4 separate regions of the Homo sapiens genome follow, and all the other regions are linked to region 2. Evidence: fine-mapped expression QTL. A gene starts in region 2. Each other region holds a variant in brackets. All regions are shown on one strand. Distances are between the middles of the regions. Region 1 has its middle 120 kb from the start of ZNF648. Region 2 holds the start of GLUL (glutamate-ammonia ligase). Region 3 has its middle 110 kb from the start of ZNF648. Region 4 has its middle 73 kb from the start of ZNF648.

Evidence for each region. PIP is the estimated chance that this variant, and not a neighbour inherited with it, causes the effect.
Region 1: its variant is the best candidate, but not a certain one, in a credible set for the expression of GLUL in macrophages (Nedelec 2016, PIP 0.53).
Region 3: its variant is the best candidate, but not a certain one, in a credible set for the expression of GLUL in monocytes after Pam3CSK4 (Quach 2016, PIP 0.84).
Region 4: its variant is the best candidate, but not a certain one, in a credible set for the expression of GLUL in whole blood (TOPMed, PIP 0.61).

Annotation. Positions count from the first base shown.
Region 1 is chr1:182,182,908-182,188,059 of GRCh38, reverse strand. It overlaps the pseudogene YPEL5P1. Among named protein-coding and RNA genes, the nearest start is that of ZNF648, 120 kb to the right of the region's middle. The variant A/G (reference allele first, on the strand shown) is at 2,205.
Region 2 is chr1:182,389,754-182,394,905 of GRCh38, reverse strand. It overlaps GLUL (glutamate-ammonia ligase), which reads left to right and starts at 3,116. Exons shown (of 7, transcript NM_001033044.4): 1 at 3,116-3,227. RefSeq lists a silencer at 2,701-3,380.
Region 3 is chr1:182,168,342-182,173,493 of GRCh38, reverse strand. No RefSeq gene overlaps it. Among named protein-coding and RNA genes, the nearest start is that of ZNF648, 110 kb to the right of the region's middle. The variant G/C (reference allele first, on the strand shown) is at 2,444.
Region 4 is chr1:182,132,226-182,137,377 of GRCh38, reverse strand. No RefSeq gene overlaps it. Among named protein-coding and RNA genes, the nearest start is that of ZNF648, 73 kb to the right of the region's middle. The variant C/A (reference allele first, on the strand shown) is at 2,726.

The DNA of each region.
Region 1 (5,152 bases), 210 kb after region 2:
TTTAGGGAACTGGCGATAAAGCATAGGTCCCTGCTCTCTAATTTACTTAGATGAAGCCACAGAGGCCTATAGTAGGATGAGGATGAGAGAATGTGAAAGGAGAAAATATAGAGAAATAAATATGTCACTCTCTTCTCCAAAGTCACAATGGCAGACAAAATTGTAACAGACAAGAATTTATTAGCCTGGAAAATGTGACAGAGTATCTGAAATTGGCATTGTGCAGTGTCTTAGTCAGTTTGCACAGCTCTAACAAATGTACCATAGACTAGGTGGCTTATAAACAGCAGAAACTTATTTCCCACAGTTGTGAAGGCTGAAAAGTCTGAGATCAGGGTGCTGGAGTGGTCATGGTCAGGTTCTGGCAAGGGTTCTCTTCCAGGTTGCACACTTTCCATCTTTTCACTGTATCCTCTCCTGTTGGAAGGAGAGTAAGAGAGTCTCTGGGGTGTCTTTTATAAGGTACTAATCCCATTCATGAGGGCTCTACTCTCATGACCTAGTCACTTCCCAAAGACCCCTCCTCCTAATACCATAATATTGGGGATTAGGATTTCAACATATGAATTTTGGGGGACATGAACATTCAGTCCATTGCATCAAGATATGAGTCATCTATGTTATTCTCCATAGTACCCACATCATCTAGCACAGTGCTTAGTACAGAGAAGATGCTCAAAATAATTGTATAATGAGTGATTGAATGGTGTTCCTAGGTGGAGGACAGATCTGCTCATCTCAGGGCACCTGCCTCCTTCTGCCTTATGCCATACACTCATGGAAGGCTGCTTTTTTTCCCTCTAAATATCCATGGGGATTTTCATGTTGAAAAAAAAAAATCAGACTCTTGGCTGAAGGAGAATTTCTTAGCCTGGTGACATTAAAACCAATAAGAGATGAATGTTGAGCCAAGGCAGAAGAGAATGGGTTCAGTGTAAAGACTGTGGGTCCAGTCAGGCTGGCAGGAAACCTGAGAACTTCAAGGTTCCAGGTCCGTCTGAAATGCCTGTTGCTATGGACTGAATTGTGTCCCACCACCAAATTCAGATGTAGGAGCTCTAACTCCAGTGCTCATTGTGATGGTATGGGAGATAATTAAGTTTAGATGAGGTCACGAGGGTAGGTCTTCATGATGGGTTGGGATTAGTGCACTGGTAAGAAAAGGAAGAGATACCAGAGCTCATGCACTCTCTCCTCCCCACCCCAACCTCTCTCTTTCCATCATGGGAGGACACAGCAAGAAGGCAGCCATATGCAAGCAAGAAAGAGAGACCTCGTCAGAACCTGATCATGCTGGGACCCCAGTCTTGTACTTTCAGCTTCCGGAACTAAGGGGAAAACATTTCTATGAAGCCATCCAGTGTGTGATATTTTGTTATGACAGCCAGAGCTGACTAATATACCCATAAATCAGCTGTAAAGGAGTTTGCCCACTGGTTTTGGTGGTGAGCTGCTAATATCATTCCGGTGGTGTGATGCCTGCTACCAGAAAGCTGCCATTAGAAATTCTCCCTGCATGAAAGTACAGCCCTTTCCAGCTGAATGAGCCTTGACAAACAAATTAGATGATTCATCCTATGCCTGAAGGCTGTTTGGCTTTGCTGGAATCCTTAGCATACCACTACTGAAGAATTTTTTAAAACATTATTTTGTTTTAAATAGAATCTATGTCAAGCATTAATTGTTATCTATGCATTGATGCTGGAAAAATTTATCATCTTGTCTGTCTGTAATGAATTTTTTAAAATTAACTTCTTTTTTATTTAAACTAATGGTCAGCACTAAAATGGTAAGCCCTCCTCTGATCTTCTGAAATAGGAAAAAGAAAGTAAATGAATAACAGCCACATACTAAGTTATTGAATTACAAGTGAACCAATTAATACTTAGATTTTGTAAGCATTATTGTACCCTAAGAATCATAGATAATGCATGGAATCTCCAGTAGATTACATGCCCTGCTGCTTTTGAGGATAATACATGGGAAGAAGTTTGCACATTTAAGGTTTAAATGTGCCTGCCAAAAAACCATGTGCTGGTAACTTAATCTCCATTGCAACTGTGTTGAGAGGTGAGGTCTAGTGAGAGGTGATTAGGCCATGAGGGCTCCACCCTCATGAATTGATTAATACAAACCTACAGGATTGAGTTCATTCTAAAAGGGTGAGTTTGGTCCCTGGTCCCCAGCCCCCTGTGCCTTCCACT[A/G]TGAGATGACTTAGCAAGAAGACCCTTGCCAAATGCCAGCCTTTCCATCTGGGACTTCCCAGCTTCCAGAACCATAAGCCAATACATTTCTAATCTTTATACATTACTCAGTCTCAGGTATTCTTTTATGAAAGCACAACACAGACTAAGGCAGGATGGTTTGCATATGTCAACTTGATTAACCTGGAAGTATATTTCCCAGAGTTCCCCCCACCGATATGGTTCTTGATTGGAGTTGTCAAAAAAGAAATGTGCATGAGATTTGAAAGATTAAAGTGAAGCAGCATGATTACCTCTGAAAGTCATTGTGATTAGACATGACGACAGATGCAGAGGTGCTGGCAGGTTCCAGTTTGTCCTTGCTGTCATCTCCTCTACATTCTACCTATCTTCCTACCTGACCCCACTGATCAACAGTGGTCTGAGAGTCCAGGCCTATCGCCATATATTGGCAGTGGAGGCAGTTTCTCATGGGCTTCCCATGAGCTTGCCTTTGCAGTTTCACTTCTGCAGTAGGACATGCATAACTGTTACTTACTCTTGCTCTGATCTTTCAACTCTCCAGTGGCACCTTCACTTTCTCTGCTTCTTCCATAATTATGTAAGGTCTAAATTTTATAATAAATCCCTTGCTTCATAACTGACAGTGGTTCTTCTTTCCTGTTGGAATCCCAAGATGCCCCATGGGAGGGAATTATTGTTAATTACTGGAGGATTCCTGTTTGGAGAAGCATTACAGTTTGGACTCAGAGATACTGGGTACCCACCTCAGTTCTACCACTACCAGCTGGTTGACCTCGTACAAGATATCTAACCTCTCAAGCCTCATTTTCTTTTCTTTTCTTTTCTTTTCTTTTCTTTTTTTTTTTTTTTTTTTTTTGAGACAGGATTTGGAGTGCAGTGATGTGATCTCAGCTCACTGCAACCTCCACCTCCTGGGCTCAAATGATCCTCCCACATCAGCCCTCCTGAGTAGCTGGGACTACAGGTGCATGCCACCACCCCCAGCTAGGTTTTGTATTTTTTGTAGAGATGGGGGTTTCATCATGTTGGCCAGGATGGTCTTGAACTCCTGGGCTCAAGCAATCCACCCACGTTGGCCTCTCAAAGTGCTCAGATTACAGGCGTGAGCCACCATGCCTGGCCCCCATTTTCTTTTCTTGTAACCAATAACATATAACATATATATATATATATATATATATATATATATATATATATATATATATACACACACCCACACACACACACACATATATAAGCACATGTAACATATATTAACATATAACAAATAGCCAATAACATGAGCTACCTTATATGAGAGGGTCTTTGTGAGGTTTAGATGATATGTTGCATGTAAATCACTTAGTCTAGCAAATAGTAAATGCTCAGTAAATGTTAATTTTTTTTCACTGACAATTCTTGCTCCAGAATTGTTAGTTATTATTGAAGGAGCTTAATGCCTGAAGGGGAATCAGGTACTAGAGCCTAAAATATACAAAGAAAAGCAGACTGTTGAGCATAGGTGTTTTAAGGTTTGGGGAGAGCTGACGTTGGCAAGACAAGCAGGAATCAGCAACGGGTGGAGCACAACAGGGAGGCAAGACAGGAGGAATGGCGCAGCTCAGGAGAGAAGCTGTAAACATCAAGTACCCAAGCACCAGGGGAACAGAGACTTAAAACTGCAGGTTCAGAATGGGCATCACTCACTCTCTGCCGTGGAGCCCTCCTGCTAAGTCAAGCCAGGTCTCCCTGGGATCACTGGCTGCTATGTAGGATTTGGGGGATTTCTGGATCACTCTGCTAGTTCACAGCTGTTACTCTGCTTCAAGTATTGAAGAAGTTTTTTGTGGCACTAAAAGAAACGCAGAATGGCCAGCACCCATTTGGTCCCCTCTCAGAGTGTCACAGCAGCCATCATGGGGGAAGGAGGAGTTATGTCATACAGAAGCTCATACCTCAACCCTAGTAAAAGAGCAGAGATGCAGGGTGAATGTGCATGTGTGTCTGGGGTGGGTATAATGAGTGATAACAGCTAGGTAGATACCGTGTTCATAACCTCTACCTCTTCAAAGAGATCCAAGAAACTATGTTTGAGTTGGAATCATGCCTATGTTGGAGAAGAAAAAAGCCCACACTTCCTTCTTCCTGAACTAACTGCATTAGGATCGTGTGCAACTAAGGCATCACCCATAGGCAATGAAAAGGCTTTAAACAAATGGAAAAAAATCTGGATATCACATGGAATGAGAAAACATGATTAGAGAGAAGTGTAGATGTGTGACTTTACAGAAGGTTCTGGACGTACTAATAGCTATCTTTGGCTGTCTGAAAGCCTTCATGGGAAGACAGGTTGGACATCAATGAATGGAAATAAAGAGAAGGTAGGTTTGCCTCAGTGTATCTCTGTCATTGAGGATTTCCAAGGAGAAGCCAGATGAAGAAGAAGAGGAAGGGAGTGATGAGGAGGAGAAAAGAAAAGGAAGAAAAAGAGGAGGAAGAAGAAAGAGGAAGAGGAGGAGGTCAGCATTTATTGAGCACTTCCTATGTACCAGGCATTGTTTTAAATAAGCTAAATATATTATCTTATTAAAATCTTACAGTATCACAACCCAGCATCAAGGGAAGCCCAGGCCAGCCCAGTTATGTCCACTGTGGGTTGCGTCCTACCTTTCACTTGCTGTAGGGAGGGTTGGTGTGTTCTTGCAACCCCTTTATTCTACTCACCTATGCAGGTTTTTAAAATTTCAGCTCCAAAAATGGGCAGAATTTTCCTTGATTATATTGGCAGTACCCATTTGTTTTCTCGTGCAAACTGTGATATAATCCTGACCAATGGCTCAGAACTCAGCTCATCTCTACTAGGTGCACAGGCACCACTAGCAGGGCGTTTCTTTGTCACAAAGTAGTTAACCTACAGTATGGTGAAGTTCAAGATCGGATCATGC
Region 2 (5,152 bases):
GCCGAGATTGCGCCACTGCATCCAGCCTGAGCAACAGAGTAAGACTCCGTCTCAAAAAAAAAAAAAAAAAAAAAAAAAAAAAAGAGAAAAGTTGTTTCCTAATAGAGATAAGATTTGGGAGTAGAGCAAAATCCTAATACAAAGCTTTTATTTCAGGCAGCAGAACAACATTGAAGAAATACTTTTAATCTCAGGCTATTTCTGCAGATTTGGAACAAAATCTTTCCCTGTAATTGCTCTCCCACTCCACCCACCCCTTGGACATGGCAATTCTACTCTAAGAGAGAAAAATATGACTTCAAAGCACATGCAATGGAACCCCTTGTCAGCACTGATATGGTGTGTACCAAGAAACAGAAAAGTTCATGGGTTCAAGCATTCTAATGCTCTTTTTATGGTGGGGGTGAAGAATGGGGGCGGGTGGCAATTTAGGGAAGAAGGGGAAGGAGAAGAAAGGGCAGCAGACACAGCAAAGTCAAACTGGATGAAACAGGCTGTTTTACTTTTAACTTCTCTAAAAGTACAGTCTGGGTTTCTGCGGGTGAACCAGTTAAGGGTTTTCTTCTGCTTTTACTTCTCGCCTATGCTCAAGCCTCCCTGGTCAGTTCTTGGACTCATCTGCGCCCTAATTTCATCATTTTAAGTAAATGTGGGGCTGGCCAAGGAGGACAAGGCCTCTTGTTCACTCCTGAAAGAGTCAGTGGTCATGTATTATGTTCCTAACCCTTACAAAGCGTGCCCCTGGTCACATGAATGGATCAAAGCAAATCCATTTCCATTCTTGGAAAAGCAGCTCAAAGCACATGTTCTCTTGATGGTGCTGCTGTCACTTCTGTGTGGTTAACAAATATCATTTATTGAACACTCACCGTGGACACTACTGGGGGATATGACAATGAATAAACTGCTCAATGAGGTCAAGACATCTAGGAAGGGAAGCAGGCACTCAAATGGCAGAAATACCATAAGCCTGCAGAACCGCACTCACGCCTTACCATTCCGTTCTCTGTTATGTTTGTCATCCCCACCTCAGGGGCTGGTGGTGTGTGCAGCAGAGGCTCTGGCTTATGGTTCGGTAGTTTGGTATCTGGAAATGATTAATAACATCTTTTAAAATAAAAATATCACTTTTCTCCTCCTTTGCTCCCCTTCCTCGACCATTTAAACTCAAACCTTTACAGAAAGAGATGAAGACAGCTCACTGTGTTACCAAGGTTAAGTCCAGTTTGATATAATGAATGGTAAAGCATTACACTGAGTCAGAAAAGTTGTATTCAAAAGTCGCTATGGGGAAAGAAAGAATCCAATCACCTCAGATTATAGAACTTGGCCTATGATAATTATAATTGCTGTTTTCTAAACATTTACGATGCACCAAGGACTACTCAATCTCTTCTGCATGTGCTATCACAATTAATCCTTTTATGAGGTAAAAATGATTATCCCTCTTTTATTATAGACAAAGAAACAGGCTTCATGTGGCTAAGTGATTTGGCCAACACAAAGCTGGTATGAAGGGAAAGCCCAGATTTGAACCTAGGTTTACCTGACTTGCAGCCGTGCCTTTAGCCACCACAATGTAATGCTTCAAGGGGCAGCACTGAAATTTAACAAGGAATTTGTAAGGCACCTTACCCAATCCAAAATGTCACCAGTCTGAAACATCCCAAAAAACCCTGTTTGAGATGAATGCTGCATCTGTCATGTAAAAGCACTACAGTGTTATACACTCTTAAAGGAAAGGGATGTTGACCAAAGAAGCCAAGTTATGTGTGTGTGGTTGCAGGCAACATTTCTTTTCCACATTTGCGGTACAAAACATAACCAGAACAAACTTCTTCCCTTCCTCTTCCAAAGGCACTGGAAGCATAAATTCTTGCTCTTTAAACTGAAAGAAGCAATAAAATCTGGACACCATCAGGTAGATTTCAGGCACTAAAAATAGAATGATCGAGTAATAGTACGGATAGCAGTATCTACCTACCTACCTACCTACCTACCTATGTTGTGTCTCTAGGTACATTTCAATATTGTGTTCACATACACATTTTCCCAACCATCACGGCAAGCTGAGAGGAGAGGTATGTATTCCCATTTTCCAGATTAACAAGAAGCCGCACTTGATAAAGCAAAATCAGGGAGAATTCGTTAAAGGAATTTCTTGACAATCCCTGGACTTCAAAGGGGGCAAGTGAACACCTCGATTTCCTTTCAGCTGCTCCGGGGGCAGTTTGCACACAGAATTTCAAATCTAGTGGGCGGCTCCACAGGTCATTTTCGATGACCACTTTATTTTGCAGATGAGGAAACTTGGGCCCTGAAAGACCTGCCTAGGGTCTGGCCAGCAGTATGAGACAGGTCTCCAGACTTAGTTTCTACCGCCCTCCAGAATCCTCTCTGTAAAATTAGAGAAACAGCACGTTGATTTCAAATGTGAAATGGCAGAGTTCTGTTTATTTCCCCAGACCCAAGAGAGCCGGAGCGGGCGGCTCTTCCAGGCCTTGGGAACCCCGGCCTGTCCCCAGGCCCGCGCGGCACCCGCCCTAGCCCAGGCCCGCCCAAAGTTCCCTCGGGTCCCGCGCCCCGCGCTCCCTCTCAAGCTAACCCCTGCCCGCAGGAAGCGGGGCTCGGAGGCTCCCTCGCAACAAAAGGCTAAATTCGGTTTCCCTGGTTCCGCATTTCCCCAGGGAGCTCTCCTCGTAAAACTATTCCCCGTGAAGGCGGCAGGGCAGAGGTCCAGGGCGGGCTTTGCTGGGAGCCTCGGGACCCCGGGTTGGGGGCCGTGGGGCGGCACCTGGCGAGCTGGCGGGTGGGCGGCGAGCCGAGGCTTCCCGGCCTGGCGGCAACTCGCCCCTCTGCCCTCAGCCCTCCCGGCTCCGCTCCCTTCCCCCACGCCGCCCTGCCCCTCCCCCACGCCCCTTTCTCTTTCTTTCTTTCTTTCCCAGTTCGCTTGCCCCCACCCCAGCGGCGCCCGCCGGGCTCCTCGCCCAATGGCCGCGGGGCCCGGGACCGCATCAGCTGATCGGCCCGGGCTCCTGGCCGCTGGGAGCCAATCAGGGCACCGGGGGCGGCCCCGGGCCGCGGATAAAGGGTGCGGGGCTGCTGGCGGCTCTGCAGAGTCGAGAGTGGGAGAAGAGCGGAGCGTGTGAGCAGTACTGCGGCCTCCTCTCCTCTCCTAACCTCGCTCTCGCGGCCTAGCTTTACCCGCCCGCCTGCTCGGCGACCAGGTAAGCCCCCGGACGGCCCGGTGTCACGCAAGCGAGGCGCGCCGCCCCTGCTACCCCGCGAGGCGCGCCGCCCAGCCTCTTTTTTCGGCTGCCTGCCCCTCCAGTCCCAGCCCTACGCTGCGGCCTCTCCGGCCCATGCCTGAGATCCGGCATGAGTGCTCCTCCCGCGTGCTTCCGCCGCTGGTGGCTTGGACCCGTCGGGGCTGGCGCTGGTGGGGCGCGCCCTTGGCCAGGCTCTGGGAAGGGCGGGGTGAGTTGTTTTGATCTTCTTTTCACTACTTGCGGCCGAAGCGCCGCCCCTGGAGGCCGTTGGGCCGGCCTGCGCCCTGGGGCTCGCAGTGGTTTGTTTGCGCTGTGGATGGAGTGGCGGTGCGGTCCCCTGTGGAGCGCAAACAAGGCGCTTGGTTGGCGCGGGCGCCTGGCTGCCTTCCTCGTGGTGGGGCCTTCGGAGCAATCGTCCTGGTTCTGGCGATGGTTGAGACGCCTCGATTGCGGCGTGTAACGGTGAGCGTTGTTTGGGCGGCCGGCTCCCGCCTCGGGGTCCCGGGGGCCTTCCAATGTGACCGAACAATGGAGAGCCCGGGCCTCGGCGCAGTCAGTGGAGAAGCCGGTCCGGGCGGAGGCAGCAGCAGCGCGCAGTCCCTACGGCCTGCGCCCCCACCCTCCCCCGGACCCCCCAACCCCTCGGCGGCAGGGTATGGCCACCTCCGTGAGGCCCTGAGATTCGGACGGGGGCCCGAGGGGCAGGGCGCCCACTTTAGGGACATTTCAGTGGGAAGGGGCTGCTCTCAAAGTGGATAATTATAACTCCCTCGGGGGCGGGAAGCGGGGATCCTCCCCCAGCCGCAAGTCCACGAAGAAAGCAACGAATGAAAATTATGAAGACAACGAGAAGTCAGACTCCTCCGGGTCGCGCTCCAGCTGCTTCGGCTTCGTCGCCTACTCTGTGAACTCCGGGGAGAGATCTCGAGTCAAGATTAAGACCTTAACCCACCAACCTGCCTGTTCGGACACCCCCCGGGCCGGCCGCTGTCTGTCCCCTTCTCCATCGCCCTCTCCCAGAAAGCTCCGGTGCTTGGACCAGCTAGAGTCTGAGAAAGAGGAGAGGCGCGAACGCCACTCCAAAAAGAGAAGGGTTAAAGAGGGCAACCCTAACGATACGCTTGACTTTCTGTGGCTGGGGTGAGTGAGGGGGCAGGGAGGACGACCCCGGAGTTGGTGGGAGCTGCAGAAACTGCTGAAAACTTCAGAATCCATTTCCCCCACGTAAACTTGGCACCGCAGCAGCAGCAGTTGATAGAGTGGCACTAGGCTGCTGGCATGCAACTCGGCTCACGGAAAAGAGCAAGAGATCCGAAACTGAGGCTTAGGACAAAGTGTGCATGATATTGGTGGTGTAACATGTTGGAGAGGACAGCCGAGAAATTGGGTTGTAGGTTTTTTTTTTTTGTTTTCCGACAGAGTCTCTATCTGTTACCCAGGTTGGAGTGCAGTGGTGCAATCTCCCGGCTCACTGCAACCTCTGCCTCTGGGGTTCAGGCGATTCTCCTGTGTCAGCCTCCCGAGTAGCTGGGATTACAGGCGTGCACAACCACGCCCGGCTAATTTTTGTATTTTTAGTAGAGACGGGAGTTTCATCGTGTTGGCCAGGCTGGTCTCGAACTTTGTACCTCAGGTGATCTGCCCGCTTCGGTGGGTTGTAGCTTTTAGCGGGAGCTAAAGGGTTCTGGGATGGAGGTGGGAAGTAGGATTTGGCCGGCTGAGTCTTCTAGAGGCAATATTGGGGTGTTGGTCTTCCCCAAGGGGAAGGGTGGTGAGGCTGAGGGAGAAGCAGTTATGTTTTCAGCTGGGCAAACATGGACGGTTGCCCGTAGAAACTTTGCCACTGTACTTCAGAACGTTGCCCTAGTCGTTGGAGGAGAACA
Region 3 (5,152 bases), 220 kb after region 2:
GCATTCTGAGCACATGTTATGGTGAGGGCAACAGTGAGTAAGAAATAGTATCTATTTTCTAAAAGCTACAATTTAGCATATGCATGTGTATGTATTATATGTATACGGGTAAAAACTGGTGCCATTTGGAATTTAAATGGCCACTATGAAATGAGAAGGGTGAGCTAGTGGGAATCAGGGGCCTTAGATGGACTCACTGGTTTATTCACTCAATTTGGAATTCATCCAAATCCATCACAATTTGTACTGAGGGGTGGCATGGGAAGGGTCAGTTATAAATGTAATAGGTATTATGAAATAATACATGTAGAGGAATAAAATCTATCACTCCTTGGAGAATCTAGGAAGTCTTTTTGGAAGAAGTTAAATTGACCTGAACTTGAAGGAGAAGTTAGGGCAAACATTCAAAGAAAAGGGAATCCCCAAACAAAAGTAGAAAGCTACAGGGATGGAAAGAATATTTGAGAAAGGGCTGAAAGACCCTGTAGAAACAACAATGAGCTGTTTGTCTTTACTCTGAAGCTGTGAATCCTCAGTGCTCTGGTAAGCAGAGCTACTGCAAGACCTTCATAAGCCCCAAGCATAGAAATTATTATGGTATTTCCCCATATGCTATTTCAAAGTACTAAATTACAAAATAAGGTTAAGTCCAATAAAGTTCTCATTTTGCCCATTAAGAATAGTTTAATCCTTTAAAAAAACCCAAATATCAAATTCTTTTTTAAAAATATGCTTCAGAATCTCTGGTTTGAGATATTATTTAGAATAGGAGAAGCTTTGCTACAGCAAAAATGAACTCTAAAAACTCAATGGTTTAACACTCATGAGTTTGGTCAGGGTAGCCCCTATGGGCAATTCTCCAACTGAATTCCACCTTTTAAAATTTATTTGTAAATTCAGAGATACGAGAGTTTGGTTTGCCATATACTTGCAAATATTCACTCTCCCTTTCATCCAACGAAACTTCCAGAGAGGCATGTGAAAGTGATTTTTAAAACCATATGGTGCACCCTTCAAATTGAAACATTATTATCAACAGTAACAAAGTGGAAAAATGCATACACTTTTAAATTATGTTATCAAGATACTCCTCTCAGCACCTTTATTCATTGGACTTCAGATTGCACTTCCAACTCTACAACCTTCAGCTAAGGAAATGCTCTCAGTTTTGGCTTCCAGGATGCAAGGCTGAACAGACTTGGTCTATGTTCTGGATGAATAAACCAGCGAGTCCATCTAAGGTCCCTGATTCCCACTAGCTCACCCTTTTCATTTCATAGTGGCCATTTAAATTCCAAATGGCACCAGGTTTTACCCTTATACATGTAATAAGGCCTTATATTCCAGTGACATTCTCAAATGAAGAAATGACGTGCCTCATAAATTCAGAATATAATCCCAACTTCAGAAATGTTCAGCAGTAGTAGCGTTGTAGAATACCATTTTTCTGAACTACATCACTGTTACATGGATCCAAGTGACTTTTCCACTGAATTATTCAGAAAATATTTGAGCACATCATGTTTCATACACTGAGTAGTGGACGAAAGTAATAGTTATCATTTACGTATTGCTTACTATATTCTGTGTGTTTACATAAACTTACTCATTTAATTCTCATAATGGTCATATGAGAGAGCTACTAGTATGAGTCCCATTTTACACATGGATAGGATGACTATCTTAGAAAACTAAGGTGCAGAGGCCATAAGTAACCTGATTAGTCTATACCAGTGGTTCTCAGCCCTGGGGTGATTTTTCCTGTCTTCCAGGGGACATTTGGCAATGTCAGGAGACATTTTTAATTCTCATGACAGGTGGTGCTGAGGGACTATAAAGCCTAGGGATGCTGCTAAACATTCTATAGTACACAGAACAGCCCCCACAACAGGAAGAATCCAGTCCAAAATGTCAGTGTTACTGCTATTGAAAAGCCTTGATCTATACCAGTTAGCACATGACATCCTTCTGGCAACTGTTATTAGGCCAATGATGAATGTATTACTTAATTTGGCCCAATCAGACTAAAGGAGGGGCCTTTGGGCAGAGGTTACTTCCATTCATTCTTTCCTACTGGATATGAACAGGAAGTGTGTGGCCAGCTGATATCCAGTGGCCGCCATCTTGTTGAATGAACCCATGCTGAGGACAGCAGACTGGAAGGACAGAAATAACCTCTGTCCCTGATGACATTACTGAATAGCACTGAACCGTATCTTTCCTGAAACCCAAGCCATCTCTGGACTTTAAGTATGTGAGACAATACATTTGTTTGCATTTTTCAAGCTGTGTGAGTGGGAGTTTTCTGTTTCAGGCAGCTGAAAGTGTCATAACCAACATATTTGGTTAATCACAAAGATTTCTTAGAAAATACAGCAAAGTCTCCTCCACGTGGTCAGATTCCTCTTCTGAAACTTATGCTTCTCCTTTCTAGCTGTACTTC[G/C]TCTTACGAGAAAATTAGGAGACAATGCTGTCAGCTAGGTTCTCCTTCTGTCTGAAAGACTACATAAGGTTGAGACTTCCTGGCACCCGTCGACAAGCAGTTAGAATACATGCCAGAGAAGGAGGGGAAGGCCAAAGGGGGATGCTGCCATCTATATGGAAACATAGAATAATAGACACATGGAAAAAACAGAGGGAAATGAATTGCTGAACTCTGTGGTAACGACACTCTGTTTATCGTAATAGATAAAATGGAAAAGAGGAGCTGGATATGTTTGGAGGAGATGAGCTTGGGAAGGAAGGCCATTCACGGTGTCCCAGGTGACTTGGGACAATGTATTGAAGGAATTGGAAGAGATAATCTTTAAACATTGTTATAGCCTAGCATTTTATCATTTGAAACTAACAGAGATGCCAGCCTGAACTGTTTGGCACTCATACAGCATCCTATGGACTCCGATGGTGGCAGTGCCCATTATTTATTCTGGAAACCACAATCTTGTTATTGCCCAAGTACCTGTATGAGGTAGCATAGAGGGGCCCACCTCCTTTTAGATCATTAGGCACATCTTTAGAAAAGGGAGGTAGAAGCTAGCTTGCCTTAGGAAACCTGAGAATGCCTTAAAGGAAGTGTGTGGAATGAGTTTCTTAAACATCTATGGCACATTAGGGAGTGTTCTGGAGCTGCCATAGACAGGTATCATTTTGTTTTGAATGTGAATTATTAGTTTTTTTTTTCTTTTTTTTTTTTTCTTTTGGAGACAGGGTCTCACTCTGTCACCCAGGCTGGAGTGCGGTGGTATGCTCGTGACTCACTGCAGCCTCTACTTCCCTAGCTCAAACAATCCTCCCACCTCAGCCTCCTGTAGCTGGGAATACAGACACACGCCACCATGACCAGCTATTTATTTTTATTTTTTATTTTTTTGGTACAGATGAGGTCTTGGCATGCTGCTCAGGTTGGTCTCAAACTCCTGGCCTCAAGCAATCCCTCCACCTTGGTCTCCCATAGCCCTGGGATTCCAGGCATAAACCACCACACCCAGACTTAGTTTGGTGTCTCAGCCCTGGAAAATATAATAATTTGAACATAATCTGCCAAAAATAACGTGTATTTATGGTGCCTGGTACTTGTCTCTACATTATATGTGCTTCCTCATGACATTCATGATTTCAATGAATGTCAATTCCCATTCTGGGTTTGACTATGAATAGCCAGTAAGCACACATTCCCCAGGTGGCTAACTTCCTCCAGACCTCTCTGACATGCACAGAAAAAAAATCAACAGAGAAATCAGGCAAGAGGTGCGAACATTCTGTTTCCCAGATCCCTAGACAACACAGCAAGAAAGACAGAGTTAGAAGCATGGTTAAGTGGGTGCAGAAGGCTCCAAAAAGTACAGGTGACACCACGTGTGTTCAAAGATTTCCTGACTTTAAATTCTCTCTGAAAAACTAGCATAGTCTATGGACTCCTCTCATTACTGAACTCTTTAGCAAGACCACAGAGTTTCCTGTTTTTGCCTTTTCCCCGATTTCCCAAATTAGCTTTGATTTTATAATTTTGCAGTGATATCCAAGAAGGGTGGACTTTGCTGACGGTCCATATTCAGTGTTCCTGCTGAAGTGCAGACACGTGATCCTGGGCTCTCCTGCTGAGCCTTGCCTGTAGACCCGTGGCTCACACGCACTCGTTTTGCAATCCATTTCTGTGCTACCACATCAGGCTTTTTCCCCTCTGAGACTGAAGAGAAATCGACCTACCCAATCAACTCTCTCACTTGCATAGGAGTCTCACCTGTCGTTAGTCCTCTGGAGCAAGCAGTTTCATCTTAACCCGGTGGTGACAGCATCAGACACAGTTCAGTATTTTTCAAACTGCAGATCTAGACCTATTCGTGAGTCCTAAAATAAATGTAATAGATTACAACCAGCAATAATCCCAGCTATTCAGGAGGCTGAGGCAGGAATATTGCTTGAACCCGGGAGGCAGAGGTTTCAGTGACCCAAGATTGCGCCACGGCGCTCCAGCCTGGGCGACAGAGTGTGACTTCATTTCAAAAAAAAAAAAGGTGAAATAAAGTAGATCAGATCAGAACTGTGGAAAGGAGTGGCCTAAAATCTTAGCGTGGCCTTCATGTAATAGGGACAAGTATTGTATCACAAAACTTCAATTGTTTCTTCTGTTATATAAATGCGTCAATATGAATGCACATATTATGTCATGATGTAAAACTATTTCTTAATGTGGGTTGCAATCAAAATAATCTGAAAGCTACTGAAATATTTAATTGGAATATCATTCTACTATCTCCAAATCTCTTTCTATTGGGAAGTGGCAAGTATGTTGTTTATTTAGGCAACTGGAGAGAAATGCTTTTAGTCATCTACTACATAAACCCATGGACTCTGATATTTCTCTTAGGGAGTCTGTGCCACATGCTACCCAGAAAAATGCTTGGTAGTTCAGCCACCTTCCCTTCCTTTGGCGCCTTCCACCCCCTTAGCAGAACCCTCAAGAGGAGCAGGCATTGGGACTGGTAAGCTAAATTGAAAGATTGGAGCAGATTCCACAACCCTCCGATGAAATCCACTCAAAAACATTTAGTATAACATCTGTTATGGTAAACATCTGCTACTGTACAAGATGAGAAAAGGACAACCATTCTGTAATAGGTCCAGAGCAGGGCAGCTGTGCAAAGAGGGAGCA
Region 4 (5,152 bases), 260 kb after region 2:
GGCCGTGATAACTCTTCTAATTGAGGGTTGAGAGATACTGAGGACAAAGGCCTTGGAGTTAGACTGATCTGGGTCTAATCTTGGTTCTGCTATTTACTTGCTCTGCAACTTTGGGAACATAATTTCTCTCCTAAGTGAAACAGAGATAGGAATATCTACCTTGCAGCGTTGTGGTGAGGATTAGCAAGTATGCATGTAAATAGCCTTAACCCTGGGTATTCACTGAATACCTAGAAGATACTTGAGAAATGGAAGCTCTTTTTATATTGATTTGGGCTTTGCAAGCTGCTAAGAAACTGACACCCTCCTCTTTCAGTTCTACTTTCTTTAGAGAAAGAAGCAAAAGATTCTCATTAAATGTATTCCACGAAGAACAGACTGACACCAACCTCTTCATATGCCTGAGATTTCTATTTTCAGCAGAGCCCACTCCAACTTCAGAGGGAGAGTGTATTACAGTTTTACTATTAATCAGCATTATCTGATGACAGACTTGTTGACTGTGAAAGTCTGGTTTTACTTATTTCTTTTGTTTTATTTTAGTAGACAGAATGCCGTATTTTTTTTAAACAGCTTTATTGAGTTGTAATTTATGTACCATACCATTTACTAATTTAATGTGTGCAAGTCAATGGCTTTTAGTACATTGATAAAATCATGCATCCATCACCAATCTCAAATTCTAGAACATTTTCATCTCCCCACAAAAGAAACCTTACACCCACTAGCAGTCAAAGCCATTTCCCCACCTTACCCCTCAGCCTCTGATAAGAATGAATCTACTTTCTGTCTCTATAGATTTGCCTATTCTGGACATTTCATATAAATGAAATCATATAATATGTGACCTTCTACAATTTGGTTTCTTTCAATTAGCATAATATTTTCAAGGAAAATCCCTTATTCAATGGTGAAGATATCTTATTATGTCACAGGAGTTCAGTGAGGGCCATTCATTCCTTGGTAGTGTCTTCTTGAGGCCCAGGCACTCTTTGGATCCTTTCTCAAGCCCAAGTTTACTGTCACAGGAACCCCAGGTCCACAACAGCCACTTAAGAGCATCAACTTGCACCCCAGACTTGGATTTAAACACTTTGGATCACTGAATCCATATTGGCAGTGGAGCTGATGTGCTTGAAATTAAGATGCATTCTAATGCTCAGTCTCCGTTCAGGCACTATCATGTAGATCTCCCAAGGGGTCTATAGACCCACACAGGAAGCTGGCATAGTGGTGGCTTTTGAGGCAGACTCTATAATCTTGAGAGGTAGGTGTGTCATTCAAGCTCCTGTGGTTAGATAGCTCTGGGGGCTGCTAACAAAAAAGGAGAAAAAATGTCCTGAATGTCACAAAATCTGCACTGAATTCAAGTCCAGTCATTCAGCTACTCCATTCTCTGTTATTCTCCTTGTGGAACTGAAATCTCATAAAACAAGGTGTGTGCATCATAGTTCGCAGAGGTGCTCTGCAATGTCACTAGAGGAAGGAGGAGAGGTTGCAGCCTAAATTATCCAGGGCACCACGGTGGGGAGTCAGGGGGGTGCAGTTCCCAGAACAGAACAATCCAGGTTCAGCTAAATAAAAGGCTCCAAGAGACTTAAACTGTTCAACAGACAGCTTGGAACAAAAGTCACAAAACAAAATTGGCCTCAACTTCAAGGTTAACCAACTGAAAATAAATAAGCATATGTGTAAGAAAATCTTAAAAGCCAACTGGCAAGTTTTGCAGAGGCTAGGCAGTAGTTTGGCCCCAAGGCCAACGGTGGGGCTAAAGTTGGGTCTCCCCCTGGGTTACCAAGGAAGGAGCTTCTTTAGCCAGATAGGATACCAATAACCGAGAACAGAAGGTCAGCAGCATTCTGAAATAGATAATAGGCCAAGTCATTTTGTAAGATATCCCAATGTTTCCTTCTAACTTAGTGAGAAATTATCCCAGGCATAGCAACAGTCACCAGAATTTTAATGCTAGAACAAACCTCAGAGGTCACTAGTTTGATGTGCTCTGTTTCCAAATTGGGAAGTAGGGTTTAGAGAAATTAACGGACTTGACCAAAGTCATACAGCGATGGAGTTGCAGGTCCAGGAGATCCCAGACTACCTGACTCCAGTTCAGTGTTTTTTATATCACACAGCCTGATTCCTAATGTGTGGCCTCTGGGAATTCTTGTTTCCTAATGGCACTATGTCTCATGTGGGCTTTTATTACAAATCATATTTATAGTTAATAGCAACAGTATTAACAGTCCTCTGGTGGTAAGAACTACCTGCTCACCAGTTTTTGTTTTTCAGGCTGAACACTGACTACAGGAGATTGCAATATACACGTTTTTCATTTCCCTGTTGGCAAAAAGAGATTCCTAATAAATCTTGCTTTCTGAAGCTGCCTCTAGGGATTGTGGGTAAAATTTAGGATATTTATTCAATGTCAACAAGAAAACAGTTTCCTCATACTCAAAGTCAAGGTGTATATTATCTAGCTTAGCAACTAAATCTGGCCCATACAGAGAAGCAGTAACTCTATAAGGGTTGATTTGTGAGCTAAAATAATAAGCTCTGTGAAGTTCCTAGAGGAGTGCAGGTGAGTGAGGGGTGTGGGTGACAAGGGAGGGCTTCATGTGGGAGATGGGAAGGCTTCATGGCTTTTAGTATATTGATAAAAATCATGCATCCATCACCACTGTCAAATCCCAGACCATTTTCATCTCCCCAAAAAAGAAACCCCATA[C/A]CCATTAGCAGTCATAGCCATTTCCCCACTGTATTAGTCTGTTCTCCCATGGCTATAAGGACATACCCAAGACTGGGTAATTTATAAAGGAAAGAGGTTTAATTAACTCACAATTCCACAGGGCTGGGGAGGCCTCAGGAAACTTACAATCGTGGTGGAAGCGAAAGCAAACATGTCCTTCTTCACATAGCGGCAGGAAGGAGAAGAATGAGTGCCCAGAGAAGGGGGAAGCCCCTTACAAAACCATCAGACCTCATGAGAACTAACTCATTATCATTAGAACAGGATGAGGGAGACTGCCCCCATGATTCAATTATCTCCACTGGACCCCTCCCGAAACACATGGGGATTATGTGAAATACAATTCAGGATGAGATTTGGGTGGGGACACAGCCAAACCATATCACCTGCCTTATGCCTCAGCCTCTGACAACAACTAATCTACTTTTTTCTCTATAGATCAGGGAAGGCTTCAGGTGGGAGGTGGGACATAAGCCAGCCTTTAGATAGAGTAGGATAGAGCTGATGAAGGGGGTCCTTATGCCAAGAGAAAGAAATATGAGGAGTGAGGGCAGAGCCATGGGAATGAGCAGAGCATTTTCATGATGAGATGGCTAAGCTGGAATAGAATTAGGTGTGGAGTACAAAGGAATAAGGCTGGATGATATAGTTCCTGGCAACCCAGAAAGAGGATCATAAATAGAAGCCACAGAGACATTTTAAGCAAAGAAGTGGCATTAATGTAGTTGTTCTGGCATGCAGGACAAATTGAAGGACACATAGACCAGAATCATGGGAACCAGTCATTACATCTCTATTGCAAGACACATCTATAAAGCACCAAGGGTCTGAATTAGGCATCCCAGTACAAGTAGAAAGGGAGTTACAGGCATGGCATACATTTCAAAGGAAATATTGGGCCCATGCCACGTGCTTGTGTTTCCTTAAGGTAGCCTTTGCTCATTCCTCCTATTGCTGAAACAACAAATAGTTTTACTTACAAATATTGTGTTTTCTAGATGTCTATATATTGATATTTGTATGTTTCTCATGATTTACTTGATTTTCCAAATGTCTAATTGCTTTAGATGAGGTTTAAATTTTTGGAAGAATTTTTCAGGGTGGAGTTATCATAATACTTTATAGTCTTCAAATGACACGTCAAATATTTTTGAAATCTTTAAATGCTCTGAAGTTTTCAACATATAGTATATTAGTCAGGCTCTTGCTGTTTCAGGCTACAAGAAAGAGACACGGTCGGGGGCAGTGGCTCATGCCTGTAATACCAGCACTTTGGGAGCCTGAGGGCGGTGGATCACCTGAGGTCAGGAGTTTGAGACCAGCTTGACCAACATGGCAAAACCCCGTCTCTACTAAATACAAAAAGTTAGCCGTGTTTGGTAGTATATGCTTGTAATCCCAGCTACTTGGGAAGCTGAGGCAGAAGAATCGCTTGAACCCAGGAGGCAGAGGTTGCTGTTGGCCGAGATTGTGCCATTGCACTCCAGCCTGGGCAACAAGAGCAAAACTCTGTCTCCAAAAAAAAAAGAAAGAAAAGAAAAGAAAAAAAGAGACACACCCAGCTTATGCTAAGTGTTGGAGCTTTATTGTTGGAATTTACAGGGAAGTAAGGGAATGGGTCAAGTGCTCAGCAGTTTTGCAACCATTCTGTGTTCCACATTCTGGTCCAAGGCTTTCAAAATGGAATGCACATTAGGCCTAGACTGGACTGGGGAGCAATAAAATACTTTGACATGATTCAGGTTACTGCAGAGACTCCTGTGACCCTCCTTTTCTGTAGTATCTTTTACATTTCCCAAGAGAGGATGTGATTGCATTGTTGCTATCCAGTGTGAAGGACCACCACTAGATAGAGTTTTTCCCCAACACAGCACATTGAGTAGTGCTCTGCATCATAGTTAATCCATACTTGATTGCGTTTGACTGAAGGCCAATTCCTATAGTAATTAGCTGTGGCAGGGCTGATATCTCTCATCACAGATGAACTGAACCGTAATTATTCAGGCAGAAAGAAATGCTTGGGGTCGCTTTGCTTGCAGAGGTCTATGGCAGACACTCAGAGCTTCCTGTCTAGTTTATATGGGTCGGATGATAGTAGAAACGAGTGTATGGAGATGGTATAGTGGGAGGAATTATCTTTACCCAAAAGAGGCATATGATAACTTTCTGAGTTTTAAACTTAGGAAGACTGCTGGGTCTCAAATGGACAAGGATTCCTACATATTTTGAGCTTATCCCTAGCTTCTGCTTACATCGAAAAGTAAAATTTTCCCTTTTCCTCCCCTAATGAGTCAGAAAATATGGTCCCATGGCATACGTGGGGATTGTCGTGACTGTATTTTATTGTGGCTGTTATTGGAGATTAGATATCAGAGAAGGTCAACTGATCGACTTCTCTTTTTTTCT